3 separate regions of the Homo sapiens genome follow, and all the other regions are reported to be linked to region 1. Evidence: microRNA targets listed by miRTarBase, many of them from high-throughput screens and not tested one by one. Region 1 holds a microRNA gene; each other region holds the end of a gene's coding sequence.

Evidence for each region. Region 1 holds the annotated microRNA hsa-miR-4768-3p (CCAGGAGAUCCAGAGAGAAU, at 1,132-1,151, opposite strand). A microRNA usually pairs through its seed, bases 2 to 8, with sites in the 3' UTR of a target mRNA and lowers its output. Matches are read on the target gene's strand: a 7mer-m8 pairs with bases 2 to 8, a 7mer-A1 pairs with bases 2 to 7 and ends in A, and an 8mer does both.
Region 2: miRTarBase lists LIX1L as a target of hsa-miR-4768-3p. Seed matches in the 3' UTR shown: 7mer-A1 at 1,569-1,575, 7mer-m8 at 1,362-1,368, 8mer at 1,244-1,251, 7mer-m8 at 1,093-1,099 and 7mer-m8 at 864-870.
Region 3: the mRNA of CARD6 is a reported target of hsa-miR-4768-3p. Seed matches in the 3' UTR shown: 7mer-m8 at 848-854.

The regions. Positions count from the first base shown.
Region 1 is chrX:17,423,821-17,427,077 of GRCh38, reverse strand. It overlaps MIR4768 (microRNA 4768), which reads right to left and starts at 1,197; the gene lies at 1,124-1,197. All of the region lies in intron 1 of NHS (NHS actin remodeling regulator), which reads right to left.
Region 2 is chr1:145,933,387-145,936,643 of GRCh38, forward strand. It overlaps LIX1L (limb and CNS expressed 1 like), which reads right to left. Exons shown (of 6, transcript NM_153713.3): 6 at 37-3,166. The coding sequence ends at 2,924. The region is part of intron 2 of LIX1L-AS1 (LIX1L antisense RNA 1); the gene reads left to right. Among named protein-coding and RNA genes, the nearest start is that of RBM8A, 7.5 kb to the left of the region's middle.
Region 3 is chr5:40,853,850-40,857,106 of GRCh38, forward strand. It overlaps CARD6 (caspase recruitment domain family member 6), which reads left to right. Exons shown (of 3, transcript NM_032587.4): 3 at 1-1,505. The coding sequence ends at 597. Among named protein-coding and RNA genes, the nearest start is that of CARD6, 14 kb to the left of the region's middle.

The DNA of each region.
Region 1 (3,257 bases):
AATATATCAAGTTCTGTCAGCAGGTCAGCCAGGCCGAGCATGCCAAGTGATCTGGGGTTATAGACAGCAGATTAATCTCAAAGCTGGAACTTCTTTAAGACCAGGAAGTAGCCCCTTTTCTGATTAAAAGACAAGTCAATAATTCTGGGTCCTTGGTCCACCACTGTGATATGTCCCTTGCAAAACAGGCACTCTCAGGCAGTCTTCCCTGCAGAGCAACCATGATGGATACTGACTACTGACTTGAAAGTGCTTTGACACCCCCAGATGGAAGGAACTAATCAATTATGCTTCTCACTTAGAGGCACCCTGCTCATTCATGCTGAAGATAGAAGTCCAGATAAAAGTAGAATTACTGGGAGTCCAAGATCCAGAAAGAAAATGAGAGAGCTCAGCTGGTCACTGTGAATGATGTGCATGTGCCCCAAGCCTTTGAAACACATGACATTTTCCAGCAGCCAAGCACTCATCAAATTGCAGAATGTCGAAGCTACAAGGAAACTTAGCAATTATTTAATGATCTAAATTACTTTTATTATAGTGAAGAGGAAGCTGAGGCCTAGAGAGGTAAAATAACCTGTCATATAGCTGAGCAGCGAAAGGAACAGACTCATTACCCTAGTGATCTCCTGTCACACAACCCATCTCATGAAGCTCTCTCTCAGGTCGAGTTTAATAGATGAGAGAACAAGGGGTAGTCTGCCTATGCAAAGCAGGTACACACAATGAGATCAGAGCAAAGGGGATTTCCTCCCCTGAAGCTAAACAGCCCCCATAAGTGATGTTACGTGTTAGGATAATTTCCTTGGTGTGCTGGAAGATGTTTCACAAGCATGGGTGGTGGGGACCCTTATTTGCCATATTTGCCAATTTCTATAGTGTAAATACTCTCATCATGGCAGATTTCAAGCTACCAACTTGATGCCACTGAACAGCAGTTGGGGAGAGATATGTGCAATCAGCTCTTGTGAGCTGATAGAAGCTGGATCCTCCACACCACTGGAATTTCTGAGAAGTCTACATCACGGGTTTAGGAATGAAATAACTTTCTGGCCCACAAGAATAAAACACCCAGGTTTATGAGGAAAATCCTAGCAGCACACACTCTAGGTTTCACTCACTGAAACTCTGATTCTCTCTGGATCTCCTGGACATCACAGTTCCCATATCCATGGGATCCAGAGAGAATCAAAGTTTGGAGAAGTTACTTGGTCCATCATGTCTGTATCTCTGGGTAGTATCCTACCTAATTGATCCAAGGCAGGAGCACTGAGAGGTGGAATCCACATTCCCTATCTTAATGCTTTTGGCAACCAAGCATTCCTTTCCCAGCAGTAACAGGATCCAGTTTCCAAGGTGATATGTGAGCTCAGAGCCCCATCTTTACCAACGTCAAAGGCAGTGCTTGGATTCAGCTTCAGGTAGGCCTCCTCTGTTCATGTAAGCAGGAAGGAAAACATGTAAAACTGAATTCCTCCTCAATTTCTTTCTTTCTTTCTTTCTTTCTTTTTTTTTTTTTTTTTTTTTTTTTTTTTTTTTTTTTTTTTTTTTTTTTGGCTGAGAAGAGTTCCAAGGCTGGGGCAGCAACTCATCAGGAAAAGTTCTTAGCCTGTGCTTTCTTTTTGCCAAACATTGATTTGCTAATAGAGAAAATAACTGGTGTATAAACAAAAGTGGTTGATGACATCCAAGGGTCTGGAGCAATTCCTCCACATCGTTCTGACAGCTAACAAATGGAACTAGCTCTTAGGGAGCATGTTTAAGGAACAGCTGGAATATGTAACGGACATTTTTCTGTGAATTTGACAGGTCAAGCTCCATCACGGTTGAGCTACGCTCACCGGACGTGGATCAGAATGAACTCTGCCATTCCTCAGAAGGTTGCCAAGAGGGCTTTGAAGAGAAGGGAATCCAAGGAACTCAGTTTCAGACATGGAGAAGAATAAAGACCAGACAAATCATGAGCAAACCTGATTTAAAGAGAAAGATCTATAAATACCAGTTGCTCAGCTTTCTCCCTGGTTTCCTGACCCTATGATGAGCTCCACCAAAATTAAGTAAGTATAGCCCTTTCCAGAGGGTCACTTGGAGGGAAGATCCTGCCATATGTCGCCTATTGGTCTTTAGCCTCACCACCACCCCAACATCTGATAAAGTCAACAGACGTGAGTTCCTAAAGGATACAGAATATACAAGATACTTTCCCTTATACAAGGATTCACTCTAAGCATCGTTAAAATGGCAAACTCACCTGGGACCCCTAAGATAACCTGATTTACCAAAATCTGGTTTATCCTTAGCATATGAGGAGCACATCCATTCTCTAAAGCAAGGAGATTTTCAAGATCAATGAGCAGAGAAACTTCTCAAAAGAATTTTATAGAATTTTTTAAGATAACAAGCAAACTAACAAATGATTGAGTAAACCTGGTACTATTCCTTTTCTTCTTCCAAACTCAAGGGAGTTATTCCAAACAATAACATACCTAGAAAAGAACCTGTGAAGATTGCAAGATTATCTAAAGAAGCCACCGGGGCAAGAGCGGTGGACATGCTTCTCCACACGGCCCTGCACCCAGACCACTCATTGTGAACTCCACCCAAATGCATAAACCTTTGGGAAGCAAAGGATGAATTGATTAGCTGCAATCTGTAGGCCCAATCAATCCATCTCCACACTGTAGGGACCTGCACAGAATCTCTCCTTAAAGTCTAGTCTTTCATGAGGAGAAATTCACCTCATAAAAGACATGATCAGAAGACATGACAGCCTGGAGGAGCAAACTACTGCTAGGTCAGTGGAAGTTCTCCTCCTGTTTGTGAAAGTGAGGAGAAAAGCACAGAGCATTTGTCCCTCAGCTTGTCTCCCTTGCAGTCTTCTCACTTATTATAATTCAAAAATTACCTCCATTTCAAGGAATCCTTCTCCTTCAGAGCTTTCAGCTCAAGGTGGCCTGGTTTGATCTCTCCTGACACCACTTCCTCCCTCCACCCCAAAGTAGATTAGGATCACCTTGGATAACCACCAGAACTTGATGATTAAAACATTCAGAGCAAAAAGATCTTCAGAGGTCATGCCAACTGATAAGCCAAGTTAGTAGCAAGGCATAAAATAAGGCATTACTGTCTTTGTTCTGTGCTGATCCATGCATTGTCCTACCTACCATGCCAGCACTTTGGTCTGTGAAATATGCAGAAAAGGCAAGAGAAACACAACTGCTGACAAGAGGATGAGGAAAGGAAGAGCACTTCCAGCA
Region 2 (3,257 bases), not on the chromosome of region 1:
TGTAATATATAGGTCTCAAGAAAGAGTCAGTCTGGCTCACTAGACAAAAATCTATTTTTAATTGTATAAAATTATACATATAAAATACATAGAATGTACTAAGAAGATGAGTAAAATCTTTGACACCAGAAGTGGACAGATCAGGAAACAATTTTTCTCAAGTTATTTGGGATCTTACTGGTTGGTATTTGAGAAAAATAATAAATCCAGGAGGTACGAGGGCAATTCTTCCCACAACTCACACCCCTTAATCCACACGTCCCAGAGAAAGGAGAAACAGGAGTGTTGATGAGTGCCAGCTTATAAATGTCAAACAGACACACCTGGTGTGTCTAGCTGTTTTTGCCTTTACTCCAACCCGACGTGTTTCATGGAATACAAACATGGGGCTTCTACCCCAGCTCTCTTCTGATTAGTAAGAAAAAAAAAATGATAGGGCCTGGAGAATTCAAGGAAGCCCGTTTCAAGCACTAATAAAATTGTAGCTGGATTCCTTACCTCTTACCCAACATGATTTCAAAAGCAAGAAAGTTGCCTTTCATCTTGCCCCTATCAAATCCAAAAGAGCCAATTATAGCCTGTTTCATAATCTATTTTTATTGTTGTTGTTACACTTGAACTTTCTGTTTGGAACCTAATCTATTTCTAAAAGCAAAGTCTGTATAATTGTTAAGTGGGAAGTCCAATTGCAGGAATACTAAATGTTCCAAGCTCAGTTTAGAAAGTACATGGGACAATAATATAGTATAAATAAGAGATCACAGAGACAAGGGGGAAATATATATTAGAGACCTCCAAAAAAATTCTCTGAAAGGAGAATACTTTAGCTGCTGTACTACAGGTTATTTCTCTCTTATGTCACCCAGGAGAGAAGTGGGGGAGAATGGTGTTAAAAACACAAATAGTGCCGGGCGCGGTGGCTCACGCCTGTAATCCCAGCACTTTGGGAGGCCGAGGCGGGCGGATCACGAAGTCAGGAAATCGAGACCATCCTGTCAAACACGGTGAAACCCCGTCTCTACTAAAAATACAAAAAAATTAGCCAGGCATGGTGGCGGGCGCCTGTAGTCCCAGCTACTAAGGAGGCTGAGGCAGGAGAGTGGCGTGAACCCGGGAGGCGGAGCTTGCAGTGAGCCGAGATAGCGCCACTGCACTCCAGCCTGGGCGACAGAGCGAGACTCCGTCTCAAAAAAAAAAAAAACACACAAATAGTTTGGGAGGCCGAGGCAGGTGGATCACGAGGTCAGGAGATGGAGACCGTCCTGGCTAACATGGTGAAACCCCGTCTCTACTAAAAATACAAAAAATTAGCTGGGCGTGGTGGTGGGCACCTGTAATCCCAGCTACTCGGGAGGCTGAGGCAGGAGAATGGTGTGAATCTGGGAGGCGGAGGTTGCAGTGAGCCGAGATCGCGCCACTGCACTCTAGCCTGGGCGACAGAGCAAGACTCCGTCTCAAAAACAAAAACAAAAACAAAACCAAAAAAAAACCACAAATAGGCCAGGCTCAGTGCCTCACGCCTGTAATCCCAGCACTTTGGGAGGCTGAGGCGGGTGGATTACCTTATGTCAGGAGTTCAAGAACAGCCTGGCCAACATGGTGAAACCCTGTCTCTACTAAAAATATAAAAATTAGCCAGGCGTTGTGGCGTGTGCCTGTAATCCCAGCTACTCGGGAAGCTGAGGCAAGAGAATCGCTTGAACCCTGGAGGCAGAGGTTGCAGTGAGCCGAGATCACGCCACTGCACTCCAGCCTGGGCAAAAGTGTGAGACTCTGTCTTCCAAAAAAAAAAAAAAACCACACACACACACAAATAACTGATCATTGATTCTCTTTCCCTTCCTGCAGTCTCCCAAGGTGTCAATTAGGAAGTGCCAAAATACTAAAGTCTCATTTAATTTTCCTGATCAACTTATGTTCTAATAATTAATGTGGAAGGAGAGGAAAGAAAGAGAAAACAAATGAGAATCTAAGGTAGTAAACAGCAGCAACTTAGCGGGAATAAGGGGAACATGGTTCTCACTAACCAAATAGGACTGATAACGCTTCCAAAAAATAAAATGTTAGGTGAAGGGAAATATGGAAATATGTTTTACTTTCTACTAATAGCTGCAGGCAGGAAGGTCCAAACGCAGGGTTTAACTAAGCTGGGGGAGTAGGGGAGATGTTTAGAGGGAATACTGAAAGAGAATCAGTTTCAACCATAACCCCCATCTACTGTAGAGTATATCCAGAAATCTAGACTACTAGTATGGTATACATATGCCCTAGAAGCAACTTAGGTAGTAAACTCCCATGAATTGTTTGTAATTTATCTTGTCCCTGGGCAGTTTCTTAGGAGGGGTTTCAGAAGCAAGATCTCTACTTCCTTCAGAATAATAAGGTAGGGAAGGAAGCCTCAAAACAAAGTGGCAATTTGGAGGCAGAGAAGGAATAAGGTAGTGGTGGGGAGGAAAGGGATAGCAAGCAGGTTCAGTTCAGGAACTAAAGGCAAAATCTTCATACTCATACCCTGTTTGAGTCCAAGAGGAAGCAGGAATGAGAGTAAGGGTGGGGCACATAATCCTTATTCAAGTTACCTGATATTTGAAAAGAAGGACACATGAACACTAGAGTTAATCTTTTAGTGCTACTGAAATGGCTACACAGTTAATCTGGAAGTTTAAGAGCTAACAAAGCTGCAAAGACAAGCTGCTCTTTGTTGTAAAGTGGACTGAAGATGTTTCAAATAAAACTACATCCAAAAACTGGTAGTAAGAAAAGGGATCTCTTAGCAAATAGGAATCTAGGTGTAGAATTTATACACATATATATTTTTTAAAGTATAAAAATGAGAAAGTATGTACAAAAAATCATCCTAAATCTTAGAAAGGAGACATAAAAAAAGGCTGTGGAAAGCCTGGGGAGTTATGTGGGTGGATGCCTAGCAGTTGGAAGAATGCATATTGCCCAACTGCCCAGCAGCCAGCACAAGAATATCTTTCTTCTCCTTGTGGAAGCGCAGCTCCTTGCCTGCCAGTCGGGCTTCATCCAGCTCCCGCTCAGTAGAGGCCAGCTCTCTAGACAGTGCCCCCGGCACACTCTGCTCCCGGCTCACCCAGTCCAAGGCCATTTGGTGGCGAATATCATCATCCAGGGCCCGGTGCGAATAATGAGCCAACACCTCCTAGTAGGGGAGGGGAATGTGAACATCATTGAGAAGGTAAAGGTTCATATCATACCACACTGACCCAACTGGGACTAAGAACTCAGCTTTA
Region 3 (3,257 bases), not on the chromosome of region 1:
GAAAGGTCTAGGGCAGTAGCCTCCAAGATAGGTCACTCCTATTCCCTGGATTCACAGCCAGCAAGAGCAGTAGGGAAGCCATGGCCTCAGCAAGCTTGCACCAGGGTAACAGAGTTAACTGAAGCAACTGGAAAACTGATAAGAACATCCCATATTGGAAAGCCTCACCCTCAGTCCTTTCAACCAGCAGCAGCCACACAAAAACTAAGACCTGCTTCTCAGCAAGGAGTCCAGATGAAGACACAAGGTGGGGCTTCAAATCCAGCTCTCCAAATAGGGTCCCATCCCATGTGCAAGAGCTCTCAGTTCAAATCCGATCAGTCCAACCCATCCACAGTCAAACACTCCCAGCCTAAACCCTTCCATTCTGTGCCCTCTCAACCTAAATCCTCTCAGACAAAATCCTGTCAGTCCCAGCCCTCCCAAACTAAACCTTCTCCATGCAAATCTACTCAGCCTAAGCCAAGCCAGCCCTGGCCTCCCCAGTCTAAGCCTTCTCAGCCCAGACCCCCTCAACCTAAGTCATCCTCAACCAATCCTTCACAAGCTAAGGCACACCACTCAAAAGCAGGGCAGAAGAGGGGAGGGAAGCATTAAAGAGCTAACTCCAGAGATCTATAAAGCATATCCTTTACCCAGGCCATTCCTATCATATAGTAAGCAGAAGAGTTGCCATGAAAGTAAAAGACTACTGTCATTAGCATGTAAAACAAAGAAAGATATACATGACTGAATTGGATATCTTTGTTTGTTTGTTTGAGACAGAGTTTCACTCTTGTTGCCCAGGCTGGAGTGCAATGGCACGATCTCGGCTCACCGCAACCTCTGCTTCCTGGCTTAAAGTGATTCTCCTGCCTCAGCCTCTCGAGTAGCTGGGATTACAGGCATGCACCACCACACCCAGCTAATTTTGTATTTTTAGTAGAGGCAGGGTTTCTCCATGTTGGTCAGGCTGGTCTTGAACTCCCGACCTCAGGTGATCCGCCCACCTAGGCCTCTCAAAGTGTTGGGATTACGTGTGTAAGCCACAGTGCCCAGCCCGAATTGGATATCTTTAAGATATCTGTAAGTGTTATATCCCTAACCAAGAAGAAAAATATGAAAATAATTAAGACTAGAATCAAGCAGTAGATAATTGAATCCAATCTTGGGTATTATTAGATAATGTATAACTTGCACCCAGGGAATGGGGGTCTATGAGACAACCCCACTTGGAGAAGAATGGGGTTAGGGTCTCTAATTGCAAAGTGACTGTACAATAGGACGAAAGTTGCCTCTGTGTCTGAGAAAGTATCTTAGTTGTTGGCTGCTCCAGAGGTATCTTTGTCAAAAGCTTCTGGTTCAATATCAGCCACTGAGCAGATAACCCTGCTTATTTGGTGTGGTTAAATCAACTAGCTTCTGCTAATAGCCCCAATTTGCTTGAATGGGAAAACTCTCTCATTTGACCCTTATAGGTAGAAATAATGAATTAACAACCAATAAAATTAATCATTTGGCATTAACTTTGTGAAAGATCTATGTTTGTTTCATATTTGATATGGTTTGGCTCTGTCTCCACCCAAATCTTATCTCGAATTGTAATCCCCATGTCCCTCAGGAGGGACCAGGGACCTGGTGGGAGGTGATTGGATTATGGGGCCGGTTTCCTCCATGCTGTTCCTGTGATAGTGAGTGAGTTCTCACGAGATCTGATGATTTATTTTTATTTTTTTGAGATGGAATCTCGCTCTGTCACCGAGGCTGGAGTGCAGTGACATGAACTTGGCTCATTGCAACCTCTACCTCCCAGGTTCAAGCAATTTTCCTGCCTCATCCTCCCAAGTAGCTGGGATTACAGGTGTCTGCCACCACACTTAGCTAATTTTTGTATTTAGTAGAGATGCAGTTTCACCATGTTGGCCAGGCTGGTCTCAGACTCCTGATCGCAAGTAATCCACCTACCTTGGCCTCCCATACTGCTGGGATCACAGACATGAGCCACCAAGTCCAGCCGAGATCTGATGGTTTAAAAGTGTGCCACTTACCCCCTTGTTCTCTCTGTCTTCTGTCGCCACGTAAGACATACCTTGCTTCCTCTTCACCTTCCATCATGATTGTGTTTCCTGAGGCCTCCCCAGCCATGCAGATCTGTGAGTCAATAACTTCTTTCCTTTATAAATTACTCAGTCTCAGATAGTTCTTTTTTTTTTTTTTAGATGGAGTCTTGCTCCGTCACCCAGGCTGGAGTGCAGTGGCGCACGCCGATCTTGGCTCACTGCAACCTCTGCCTCCTGGCTTCAAGCGATTCTCCTGCCTCAGCCTCCCAAGTAGCTGGGACTACAGGCGCCTGCCACCACGCCTGGCTAATTTTTGTATTTTTAGTAGAGACAGGGTTTCATCATGTTTGCCAGGCTGGTCTCGAACTCCTGACCTTGTGATCTACCTGCCTCAGCCTCTCAAAGTTTTGGGATTACAGGCGTGAGCCACCGTGCACGGCCTCAGGTAGTTCTTTATAGCAGTGTGAAAACAGACTAATACAATAGTTTAAATATTTGTAATAGTTAAGAAAATTGGACTTATTAGAGGGTCTGGTATTAATATACTAATACCTCATGATTCAAATTTAAAATGTTATTGAGTTTTCTTTTTTTTTTTTATACTTTAAGTTTTAGGGTACATGTGCACATTGTGCAGGTTAGTTACATATGTATACATGTGCCATACTGGTGCGCTGCACCCACTAACTCGTCATCTAGCATTAGGTGTATCTCCCAATGCCATCCCTCCCCCCTCCCCCCACCCCACCACAGTCCCCAGAGTGTGATATTCCCATTCCTGTGTCCCTGTGATCTCATTGTTCAATTCCCACCTATGAGTGAGAATATGCGGTGTTTGGTTTTTTGTTCTTGCGATAGTTTACTGAGAATGATGATTTCCAATTTCATCCATGTCCCTACAAAGGACATGAACTCATCATTTTTTATGGCTGCATAGTATTCCATGGTGTATATGTGCCACATTTTCTTAATCCAGTCTATCATTGTTGGACATTTGGGTTGGTTCCAAGTCTTTGCTATTGTGAATAATGCCACAATAAACATACGTGTGCATGTGTCTTTATAGCAGCATGATTTATAGTCCTTTGGGTATATACCCAGTAATGGGATGGCTGGGTCAAATGGTATTTCTAGTTCTAGATCCTTGAGGAATCGCCACACTGACTTCCACAATAGTTGAACTAGTTTACAGTCCCACCAACAGTGTAAAAGTGTTCC